Homo sapiens: one gene and its partners. Changing the gene in region 3 together with the main gene of any one other region gives a genetic interaction. Each region holds a gene or a part of one and is shown on either strand. Other genes may lie near its edges.

Evidence for each region.
Region 1: changes in GBF1 (region 3) and PLAA together harm fitness more than expected from each alone (negative genetic interaction), as found in Homo sapiens cells (one study listed by BioGRID).
Region 2: changes in GBF1 (region 3) and VKORC1L1 together harm fitness more than expected from each alone (negative genetic interaction), as found in Homo sapiens cells (one study listed by BioGRID).

Annotation. Positions count from the first base shown.
Region 1 is NC_000009.12:26,916,139-26,919,792, reverse strand, and holds part of PLAA (phospholipase A-2-activating protein), read left to right. Parts: intron 1-263; coding exon 264-483; intron 484-2,544; coding exon of another isoform or gene 2,545-2,627; coding exon 2,628-2,696; intron 2,697-3,087; coding exon of another isoform or gene 3,088-3,176; exon of another isoform or gene 3,177-3,654. UniProt on the Homo sapiens protein: Plays a role in protein ubiquitination, sorting and degradation through its association with VCP. Involved in ubiquitin-mediated membrane proteins trafficking to late endosomes in an ESCRT-dependent manner, and hence plays a role in synaptic vesicle recycling.
Region 2 is NC_000007.14:65,879,542-65,883,195, forward strand, and holds part of VKORC1L1 (vitamin K epoxide reductase complex subunit 1-like protein 1), read left to right. Parts: intron 1-3,654. UniProt on the Homo sapiens protein: Involved in vitamin K metabolism. Can reduce inactive vitamin K 2,3-epoxide to active vitamin K, and may contribute to vitamin K-mediated protection against oxidative stress.
Region 3 is NC_000010.11:102,251,977-102,255,630, reverse strand, and holds part of GBF1 (Golgi-specific brefeldin A-resistance guanine nucleotide exchange factor 1), read right to left. Parts: intron 1-3,654. UniProt on the Homo sapiens protein: Guanine-nucleotide exchange factor (GEF) for members of the Arf family of small GTPases involved in trafficking in the early secretory pathway; its GEF activity initiates the coating of nascent vesicles via the localized generation of activated ARFs through replacement of GDP with GTP.

The DNA of each region.
Region 1 (3,654 bases), on a different chromosome or scaffold from region 3:
CTGCTTTGGCTCTAGAGTTAATATGTAGTTGTAATCCATCCTTCATCCTCACCCCCATCCCCTAATGAAATACTAATTTTGCATCACATGCAGATGGGGGCTGTTAATCTTTATCTGCCAAAAACGAAGATTTTAGCACTGCACTTTGGAGAAAGTTTAAGTACTGTAATTATTAAAGAACACATCTGTGTTATGTTGTATATGTCATTAATATATGTGAACAGATAATAAGCATGTATCTCCTTTTTATATTCCTACTTTAGGAATTTGATTATGTTTTCTCAATTGATGTCAATGAAGGTGGACCATCATATAAATTGCCATATAATACCAGTGATGACCCTTGGTTAACTGCATACAACTTCTTACAGAAGAATGATTTGAATCCTATGTTTCTGGATCAAGTAGCTAAATTTATTATTGATAACACAAAAGGTCAAATGTTGGGACTTGGGAATCCCAGCTTTTCAGATCCATTTACAGGTAAGTTAGTGTTTATATTGAGTCTTATGTAGTTCCATTAGTGTTGATTGATTTTTTTGATGTTTTCAAATAGTCATGTGATTAGCTTTTTCAATAAATACCAATATCTACAGCAGGGTTTTACTTCACATTCATATGTTTAAGCCTCAAATGATGAAGTAATTCTGTATTTTACAGAAATAATAGTAAATTGTTGTCTTTCAAAAATACAATCATACTATAATGGAATTTCAGTTATTTGAAACAAAAATAAACTTGTAAGTTCTTTTATATAGTGTTTCTTTTAAAAAATTATATTTTGGCAAAATTTAGTAAATCTTTTTTTCACATGAGGCTAAATTGGTCAGTCATGCATCAAATCTAAAAGTGAACCCTATGGGTAGTTTTAGTTTATATGTGATGTGTATTCTACACGTTCATTTTAAGTTAATTGTTTGTAACATCGTATACATCGTATCTCATGTTATAAATGCAGTTAGGTGCTCATACCAGTCTGTAAATTGTAATCCTAATGGTACTAGTCCAAATTCTGGCCCCTAGGAAGTGGAATCTAATCCTAGTAATATTAACGTGAGTTCTGGAGACTGGTGTAGGAGGAAATAAAATGCCTCCTCTAAATAACATTTTGAGATAGGCACTTTACTGTTAATGTTTTCCTCTCATCATTTCTGACTCAACATTTTTCAGGTGCTAGTGCTCTTCCTTGTTTTACGAGGACTTTGTATTATATTCCTGTCTCAAATCCTTATGTAGATCCACCTTTTCTTCCCTGACAGCTACTCCACATTCCCAAATTATCTCCTCATTCTACTTCAAAATTTCATTGCCCATTCATAAAATAAAACTAATGTTACCTGCATGTTGATTTAAATAGAATTATCAGGCCAGGTGTGGTGGCTGACGCCTGTAATCCCAGCACTTTGGGAGGCCAAGGCAGGCAGATCACAAGGTCAGGAGTTCAAGACCAGTCTGGCCAACATAGCGAAACCCTGTCTCTACTAAAAAAAAAAAAAAAAAAAAATACAAAAAATTAGCCAGGTGTGATGGATGTGCGCCTGTAATCCCAGCTCCTTGGAAAACTGAGGCAGGAGAATCACGTGAACCTGGGAGGCAGAGGTGGCAGCGAGCCAAGATCGCACCATTGCACTCCAACCTGGGCGATAGTGCAAGATTCCGTCTGAAAAAAATCAAAAAATTTTAAAAAAAATTATCAAAGTAACTTACTACTGAATTACAGATGATCTGATCCTCCAAATACTTGCACTTAAAAAGAAAATAATTGTTTAGTATGTGGATATTTTTGTTGTTGGAATTTCAGACTGTAGTTCAAGAGTGAACACAGATTGTAGTACTGTGTAAGCTATTTTGCATGTGGGATACAGGAAAGGAATTAAAGCAGCTGACTTTGTCTGGAAATCTAGGAAGCACTTGGCTTGTTTTGCCCTTCTGAGACTCTTAACTTTTTCAGCATCCTTACTGTTTTTTGTTTTTTGTTTTTTGTTTTTTTTGTGGACAACCTGATTATTTCCCTAGAGGTACTAACAAAACATAGGCACATACGCCACACATTCGTAAATGTATAAATGGAAGTCTCTTTCCTTTGTAGTTTTCATCCCTTTTCTAATTCTCTTCTCCAGTAGGTTGTAAGCTTCAGTGGATATAAGCAATTTTGTTCCCTTCTGGATCCCCAGCCCTGAGTCCATTGTTTGACACATGAATTAATGAACCTAGAGCTCTAAATGATTAACATTTAGTGCCTGTGGTTTTGATAACAATAACAACAGCAGGAACTCTTGTGAATTTGTATAGGAACAGGGACAGGAATTGATTGTATGTTTATATATTTAGGTCAGATATTACCTGCAATTCTCTTTTGATATTTGAATTAAGTTTTAATATTTAAGTGCTGGGGCTAAGGTATAATAAAGCATTAAAGTTAAGAAAACAAAACTTGGAGAATCATTAAAATTTCAGTTTTTTCCCAGTTATAAGACTTCTGACTATAGTTTCTGTCATTCTATCATGTGAAAGTTTTGCTCTTCTGTTTTTCTCCAAATGTAGGTTCTTCTAAAACAAGCATTGTGCTGTTTGAAAAATTCAGAACTTTGGTGCACTTCTGCCTTTTCTTTATTTTGCATGCACAGGTGGTGGTCGGTATGTTCCGGGCTCTTCGGGATCTTCTAACACACTACCCACAGCAGATCCTTTTACAGGTGGGATGTAGTTTTGATTCATGTATCTTTCTTCACTAAATGTATAGCATCTTGCATCACATGGCTTTACATCTTGGAGATGTCATCCAGTAATTGGTAATTCCCTTATCTGCATTTCCAATTTTGATGGATTTCCTTTTCTTTAACTTCTGATTTTTGCTTTTTCCTGGAGTGGTTGTGTAGATTCCCTCGTGACTTTTAAATAGCATATTATTAGAATTCATTGTTTTCTCCAGGGGTCCTTCCCACCAGGAGAGCAGTATAGTTAAGAATATAGGTTTTAGAGTCAGACAAACCTTGGTTCAAAATTGGGCTCTACCACTTACTTGCTATGAGAAGTTGGCAAGTTACCTAACCTGTCTGAGCCTATTTTTTTTATCTGTGAAATTAGATAATAGGGGAACCCACCAACCAAGACACAGCATGAGTGCTATCACTGGCGAGATGCTACCAATCACGAGCAGAGAAGGAGCCATGTGAGCCCTGATATTGGATGGAGCAGTACAATCAAGAAGTCTCCCCAGGCATATTTTGACTTAACATGGAAGGAGACATTCCACCCAACTACCCAGGAGTAGTCTTCCTAATCTAAGTTATTAATGTCCTTCTTGAAGCCCTTGAAGTGTTGGTGTATCTCTTCAAAATGAATTTATTTACCAAGGTATGCATGCCTCAGCATCAACACTACTGGAAAAAGTGCCAGAGTTGGACTTTAAGGCAGCTGAAGAAGTCTCTATTTTCAGAATGGCTTTTGATATCTTGTATAATGCTGTTGTTGGATCTTCAGACAGAGTTCCTCGACAGTATACTCAGTTTGGGAAGAGATCATAGCGTTTAGGTATCCACTGGCCTTGCAGACTGGTACTGTGAGCTATAAAAATGACAACCTACAGTCCTCTCTAAGTCATAGAGATTGGACAAACATACAACGTTAGGTCAGCATCATGAAGTTGTGGAT
Region 2 (3,654 bases), on a different chromosome or scaffold from region 3:
AACTGAGCAACGCAGACTAACACTTGATCCAGGTAGTACAGTGGCAGAGGCCTGATTCTAACCCAGGCAGTCTGGCTCAAGAGTCCAAGCTCTTTACCACTACTCTTTCGTCTTCCTTTCTTCCTTTCCCTCCCACCCTCCTTCTTCCTTTCCTTTCTTTTCTCTCTTTCTTTTCCTTCCTTCTTTTCTTTCTTTTTCCTTCCTTCCTTCCTTTTCTTTATTTTTCCTTCTTCCTTCCTCCTTCGTTCCTTGCTTCCTTCTTTCCTTTTCTTTTTCTTTCCTTTCCTTTTTTTTTCTTTCCTTTCTTTTCTTTCTTCTTTAACTTTTTGAGACATTGTCTCACTCTGTCTCCCCAGGCTGAGTGCAGTGGTGCAGTCATGGCTCACTGCAGCCTCAACCTCCCTGGGTCAAGTGATCCTCCAACCTCAGCTTCCTGAGTAGCTGGGTCTACAGTTGCACACCCCACCATGCCTAGCTAATTTTTTCTATTTTTCATAGTGACGAGGTCTCACTTTGTTGCCTGAGTTGGTCTCAAACTCCTGGCCTCAAGCAGTCTTCCCACTTGGCCTCCCAAAGTGCTGAGATTACAGGTGTGAGCCACCACGCCCAGCCTTTTACCACTACTTTAAATTCCATTTAGATCTAATATTGATAGAGTGATAACCATATCAACCAGATTTTTTAAATATGCAAACAATGGTGCCAGTTTCTGTATCTATGTGACAAAAATATATAGAGTTTGTGGTATCACTTTTACCTGTTTAGAGCACTCTTTGGAAAGGCAGGGAAATTACTGTGAAGGTATTGGTATTCCAGAAGTAAGTTCCTGGAGTGTTTGCCTTCTAAGGTGTGAGGACGTGGTTTGTCACACCCAGTTAACTAACAGATAGACGGTGTAGTGAGCTGTCCGGAAGACTTAGCAGGTTAGCCTAGGGAGGAAGGAGAAAGGGGTTCTGGGCACATGGAGGGAGGGGGAGGGAAAAGAGTTTGTTTGAATCTGTCCTAGATTGGGGTAGCTTTTTCGGAGGGAGGCCTTGTCGTGTGGACCTGCTGCATATAAAGACAGGAGAATTGGACCTGAGGTGTGGTGCTAGCTAAAGCGCCACACAGATCTGGGAATTTAAGAGGAGTTCATTTCCTCAATCATTAGGAAGAACTTGAAAGGGTAGCAAACTGTGGTCATTTGAGAAGAACAGCAAGTGGTCATATTTGAATGTAACATATTCAACTGGGTTGGGAAAGAACCAGAATCTAGATCTTGCCCATAGCAAGTGCAAAACCAGGCGTTCTTATAAACCATGTACTCTTGTAAACACTGATAAGACATAGCACTGAGTCCTGAGCTTTTCTTCTATAAAGTTATTGTACAGGTTGAGGATCCCTAATCCGAAAATCCAAAATCTGAAATGCCCCTGTGAGCATTTCCGTTGAGTGTCATTGGCACTCAAAGTTTTGGATTTTGGACCATTTCAGATTTTGAACTTTCAGATTTGGGATGCTCAACCGGTATATAATGCACATATTCCCAAATCTGAAAAAATCCCAAATCCAAAGCATTTCAGCTCCAAAGTGTTTCAGATAAGGAATATTCAACCTGTACTACATTGTACTAGGCTTGTATTAGATTCCCAGTTTTCAAAATTTGTATCTCAGAATCCCTGTTCTCTGTCAATGAAACAGGGATTTCATACACCTTTGATTCACATTTTAATGTTTTAAGTTTAAAATATTATAAATGTTTATACACAGTCAAATGAATCTCATGCTAAATTTTAATATATTAGAGACAACTGATTTGTCTGCCAGGTTATCTCAAGAGAGTTAATACTGAGTGAAAACAAGTGAGAACCCTAAAAGATTACATACTGTATGATTGCATTTATGTAACATTATTGAAATAACAAACCTGCAGAGATGGAGAACAGATTTAGTGGTTGCTAGGAGTTAGGAATGGGAGGTGAGGGGTGGTGTGGTTATAAAGTGGTAGCATGAGGGAGCTGTGTAGGGATGGAACAGTTCAATGTCTCAGGTGTGATTATACAAAGCTGCAAATGTGATAAAAACTTCATACAACCACACACACACATACTGCATATAAATCCTAGCGTACTCAAGTCCCATTTTGCATACAAAACTGGTGAAACCTGAATAAACTCAGGATTGGAGGAATTTGGGCGAGGGTACTTGGGACCTCCCTGTGTACTTTTTTGTAAATTCCTGTGATTTATAATTATAGTAATTTTAAAATAAAAAGTTGGCCAGGCACAGTGGCTCATGCCTGTAATCCCAGCACTTTGGGAGGCTGAGGCGGATGTATCACGTGAGGTCAGGAGTTCAAGACCAGCTTGGCCAACATGGTGAAACCCCATCTCTACTAAAAATACAAAAATTAGCCGGGCATGGTAGTGGGTGCCTGTAGTCTGAGCTACCTGGGAGGCTGAGGCAGGAGAATCACTTGAACCTGGGAGGCAGAGGTTGCAGTGAGCTGAGATCATGCCACTGCACTCCAGCCTGAGCGACAGAGCAAACTCTGTCTCAAGAAAATAAAATAAAATAGACTGGGTGTAGTGGCTCACGCCTGTAACCCCAGCACTTTGGGAGACTGAGGCGGGTGGATCACCTGAGGTCGGGAGTTGGAGACCAGCCTGACCAACATGGTGAAACCCCATCTCTACTAAAAATACAAAATTAGTCGGGCATGGTGGTGCATGCCTGTAATCTCAGCTACTCGGGAGGCTGAGACAGGAGAGTTGCTTGAACCCAGGAGGCAGAGGTTGCAGTGAGCCAAGATCACGCCATTGCACTCCAGCCTGGGCAACAAGAGTGAAACTCCGTCTGAAAAATAAAATAAAATAAAATAAAAAGTAAAAAAGCAAAAAAAAAAAAAAAGTGCATTTAGAATATTTGAGAGAAAATAAGCAAAAGGAAGAAAATGTAAATTATCTATAATGCTTACACCCAGGACAATAATCCTTGGAATAGAGTGTCTCACTTTGTGTATAGAAATGAAACTTTTAAAATGCCATTTTATTTTTTAATTAAAATTTTTTCTTTCCTTTTTTTTCCTCCTCAGAGTTAGAAAGGATAAAAATGTTATTGATTAGTAAGACTGTAGCTTTATGTTGATATTTTGAAATTTTAGGCTAGTGCTTGTTTGTTCATGTAACATATAAGCACATTCAGTACTATTAGAACTGTTGCATTATGCAATAACATGACTGCCTAATGCATATATCAGGATTAGTACATATTGTAAAGTTTTTATTTTTTACCAAAATGTTTACGACTACCAAGTATTCATTCCTTAACACTATTACATAATTAATTTAGAAATGTTTTACTTTTAAAACTTCTGGACAGGTGTAATTAAATCCTTAGATAGCGTTAATGTACTATTTAAAAAACACACACAAAACATTATCATTGGCAAAACATGCTTTATCATCTATTCATCTTTGTGAATCCGGTTTTTCTTGATACCATGCCATCAAAACAAAACAAATTTGACATAAGACTGCCCAATCATCCATAATTTAAAGTTGGTGTTCGTCAGAAGAATTTTATTGTTCTCATTATACATGTTATACATTTGAGCTTTTTTTTTTTTTTTTTTTTTTGGAGATGGAGTCTCACTCTGTCACCCAGGCTGGAATG
Region 3 (3,654 bases):
GTCTCTGGAAGGACTTGTAAGAAAATGCTAAGAGGTTACGGCCTCCAGGGAAAGAAACTGGATGACTATGGAACTGAGTGGTGGAGGAGTGAAAGGAAGACTAACTTTTCTCTGTATATTCTTTTTTACCTTTTGAATTTTGTGTCACAAACATATATTACCTATTAACTACTTTTAAATTTTAATCAGCTGATTGACTAAAAATGAATAAGCCCTTTAGAAAAGAAGTAACCACTTTCTAAGACAGCAAAGGTCTAAGCAAAAAATCATTGTAAAAAAGAAACATCTAGGGCTGGGCGCAGTGGTTCACGCCTATAATCCCAGCACTCTGGGAGGCTGAGGTGGGCAGATCACCTGAGGTTGGGAGTTCAAGACCAGCCTGGCCAACATGGTGAAACGCCACCTCAACTAAAAATACAAAAATTAGCCAGGTGTGGTGACACACACCTGTAATCCCAGCTGCTTGGGAGGCTGAGGCAGGAGAATCACTTGAACCCAGGAGGTGGAGGTTACAGTGAGCCGAGATCGCGCCACTGCATTCCAACCTGGGCAACAGAGTGAGACTCTGTCTCAAAAAAAAAGAAACATCTAGGGAATGAAGAGGAATTATTTTCAAGTACTATGCAGAGCTGCCTAATCTCCTTCTAGGTCTCTGAGTATGTCCCCTCACTCAGGGAATCTCCAAACAGTTGTGCCCTTCAGCTTCAGATGGGAAACTGATGAACCACTTGCTGCCTGGTAGCCAATGGCCAAGAAATCCCTTGTCACAAGGTCATAAAGGCCTGCAGAAACCTCATAAAAGTATAGTAGAAACGAACTTAAGATTTATCTTGTGTCAGAAATAACAAGAGAAATACATTCATTATGTACCCACACAAATGAAAAATTAATAGAAAAAAATAAATAAGAGAGGGAACAACTAAATAAATACCAACTAACACCCTTAGCCAGATAAGCCACTGGCCCAGAGACTCTGAGTAACATGTACCCTTGAAACCACTGTCCATTTAAAGCTGGGTCTAGAACATTCCCCTAGTGCTTTGTGGCATCCCAGTTACCTCAACAGGATCCAAAGAGGAGTCACTGTATCACTTGGCAACTCTGTCTATATCCAACAAAAGCAGGAGAAAAAGAAACAATAAATTGTATTCTTATTTAATGGAATACCAAAAATATATCTCAGGTTATTTAAATATGAAAAGCAAAACTTGAAATCTCTTAGAAGCTAATATATGAGAATATTTTCTTTTTGATTTTTTTTTAGAGATAGGGTCTTGCCATGTTGCCCAGGCTGGACTCAAACTCCTAGGCTCAAGCAATCCTTCCACAACAGCCTCTTGGGTAGCTGGGACAACAGGTGTGTGCCACAGCACCTGGCTACAGGAGAGTATTTTTATAAACTCAGCATAAGGGAGAAGTACCTAAACAAGAAACAAAAAGCAAAACCTCTTTAAAAAATTGGTGAATTCAACCATGTTAAAATTAAAAATGCCTGTTCAAAAGACAACATAAAAAAGAGGGAAAAGATAAGGCACAAACCAGAAGAAAATATTTGAGGCACATATAACTAATATAAAGGAGTAATATCCAGAGTATACAATAACTGCTACAAAACTATAAGAACTAGACATATAACCCCTCCCCAAAATTGGCAACAGAGATGAATAGGTGTTTCACAGAATAGGAAACATAAACAGCAAATAAATATATGAAAAGATTATTAGCTTCATTAATAATCAGGAAAATTACAAAATAAGATTATAATGATATACCACTTTACATTCCTGAAATAGCAAAACACTTTAAATCTGATAATACTTAAAAGGCCAGGTGCTCACGCCTATAATCCAGCATTTTAGGAGGCCGATGCAGGAGGATCACTTGAGCCAAGGAGTTTGAGAACAGCCTGGGCATCATAGCAAAACTCCATCTCTACAAAAAATTTAAAAATTAGTAGGGCATGGTGGCATGTGCCTGTAGTCCCAGCTACTTGAGAGGCTGAAGTGGGAGGATCACTTGAGCCTAGGAGGTCAAGGCTGCAGTGAGCCACGATCACACCACTGTACTCCAGCCTGGACAACAGAGTAAGACCCTGTCTCAAAAAAAAAATTGTTTTTAAGTTGGTAAAAAATGCAGACCAAGTGGCTGGTATGTATCTAAATTAATATGAATTTGAATAACAATTTGGCATTATCTTACAAAGCTAAAGCACTTCATATCCTATATTTCAGCAATTCCACTTCTAGGACTATACCCCAGAGAAGCTCACACAAAAAAATTGAGAATAGTGGCAAGCGGCAGGGAGTGTGGGGGAACTAACAGGGAAGGGCATACATACATGCAGCCTCAGTTTTGGTGATGTTATTTTTCAAGCTGGGTGGCAGCCATTGGTGCCCCATATAAGCTACACATATTCTTTGTCTAAAATAGCCCCTCGGCTGGGGGCAGTGGCTCATGCTTGTAATCCCAGCACTTTGGGAGGCCAAAGCAGGCAGATCAACTGAGGTCAGGAGTTTGAGACCAGCCTGGCCAGCATGGTGAAACCCCCACTCTACTAAAAATACAAAAATTAGCTGGGCATGATGGCAGGGGCCTGTAATCCCAGCTACTCAGGAGGCTGAGGCAGGAGGATTGCTTGAACCCAGGAGGTGGAGGTTGCAGTAAGCCAAGATTGCATCACTGGTCTCCAGCCTGGGCAGCAGAGCAAGACACCGGCTCAAAAAATAATAATAATAAAATAAAATAAAAGACCCTAAAAAGTTAAAAAGTTCCTTTTTTTTTTTTGAAACAGGGTCTCATTCTGTCGCCCAGGCTGGAGTGCAGTGGTACAATCTTGACTCACTGCAATATCTGCTTCCCAGGCTCAAGCGATCCTCCCACCTCAGCCTCCCAAGTAGCTGGAACTACAGGCATGAGTCACCATGCCTGGCTAATTTTTTTGTATTTTTTGTAGAGACAACATTTTGCCATGTTGCCCAGGCTGGTCTCAAACTCCAGAGCTCAAAGCAATCTGCCTGCCTTGGCCTCCCAAAATGCTGGGATTATAGGTGTGGGCCACCACGCCACATCATTCCTACTTTTTAAAGTCATGGTCTTTGCTGCCTCTTTGCCTTTGCATATGAAGCTCCCTTTCTATTCTGAATGTTTTTTCTCACTCTTGTCCACCTGATAAACCCTTACTCATTCCATCCAAAAGTCAATGAGGGAGTCAGAATATCACAGTGGTTCTAAGAACAATCTTAAAACCACTTATTTATTTATTTATTTATTTTTCCACTTTTTTTTTTTTTTTGAGACAGCGTTTCCCCCTTGTTGCCCAGGCTGGAGTGCAATGGCACAATCTCGGCTCACCGTAACCTCTGCCTCCCAGGTTTAAGCGATTCTCCTGCCTCAACCTCCCAGCAGCTGGGATTACATTCATGCGCCACCATGCCGGGCCAATTTTGTATTTTTAGTAGAGATGAGGTTTCTCCGTGTTGGTCAGGCTGGTCTCAAACTCCCGGCCTCAGGTGATCTGCCCACCTCGGCCTCCCAAAGTGCTGGGATTACAGGTGTGAGCCACTGCGCCCAGCCCTTTTTTCCACTTTTTTAGCAGAGTATTTTTAGTAGAGTTGGGGTTTCACCATGTTGGCCAGGCTGGTCTCAAACTCCTGG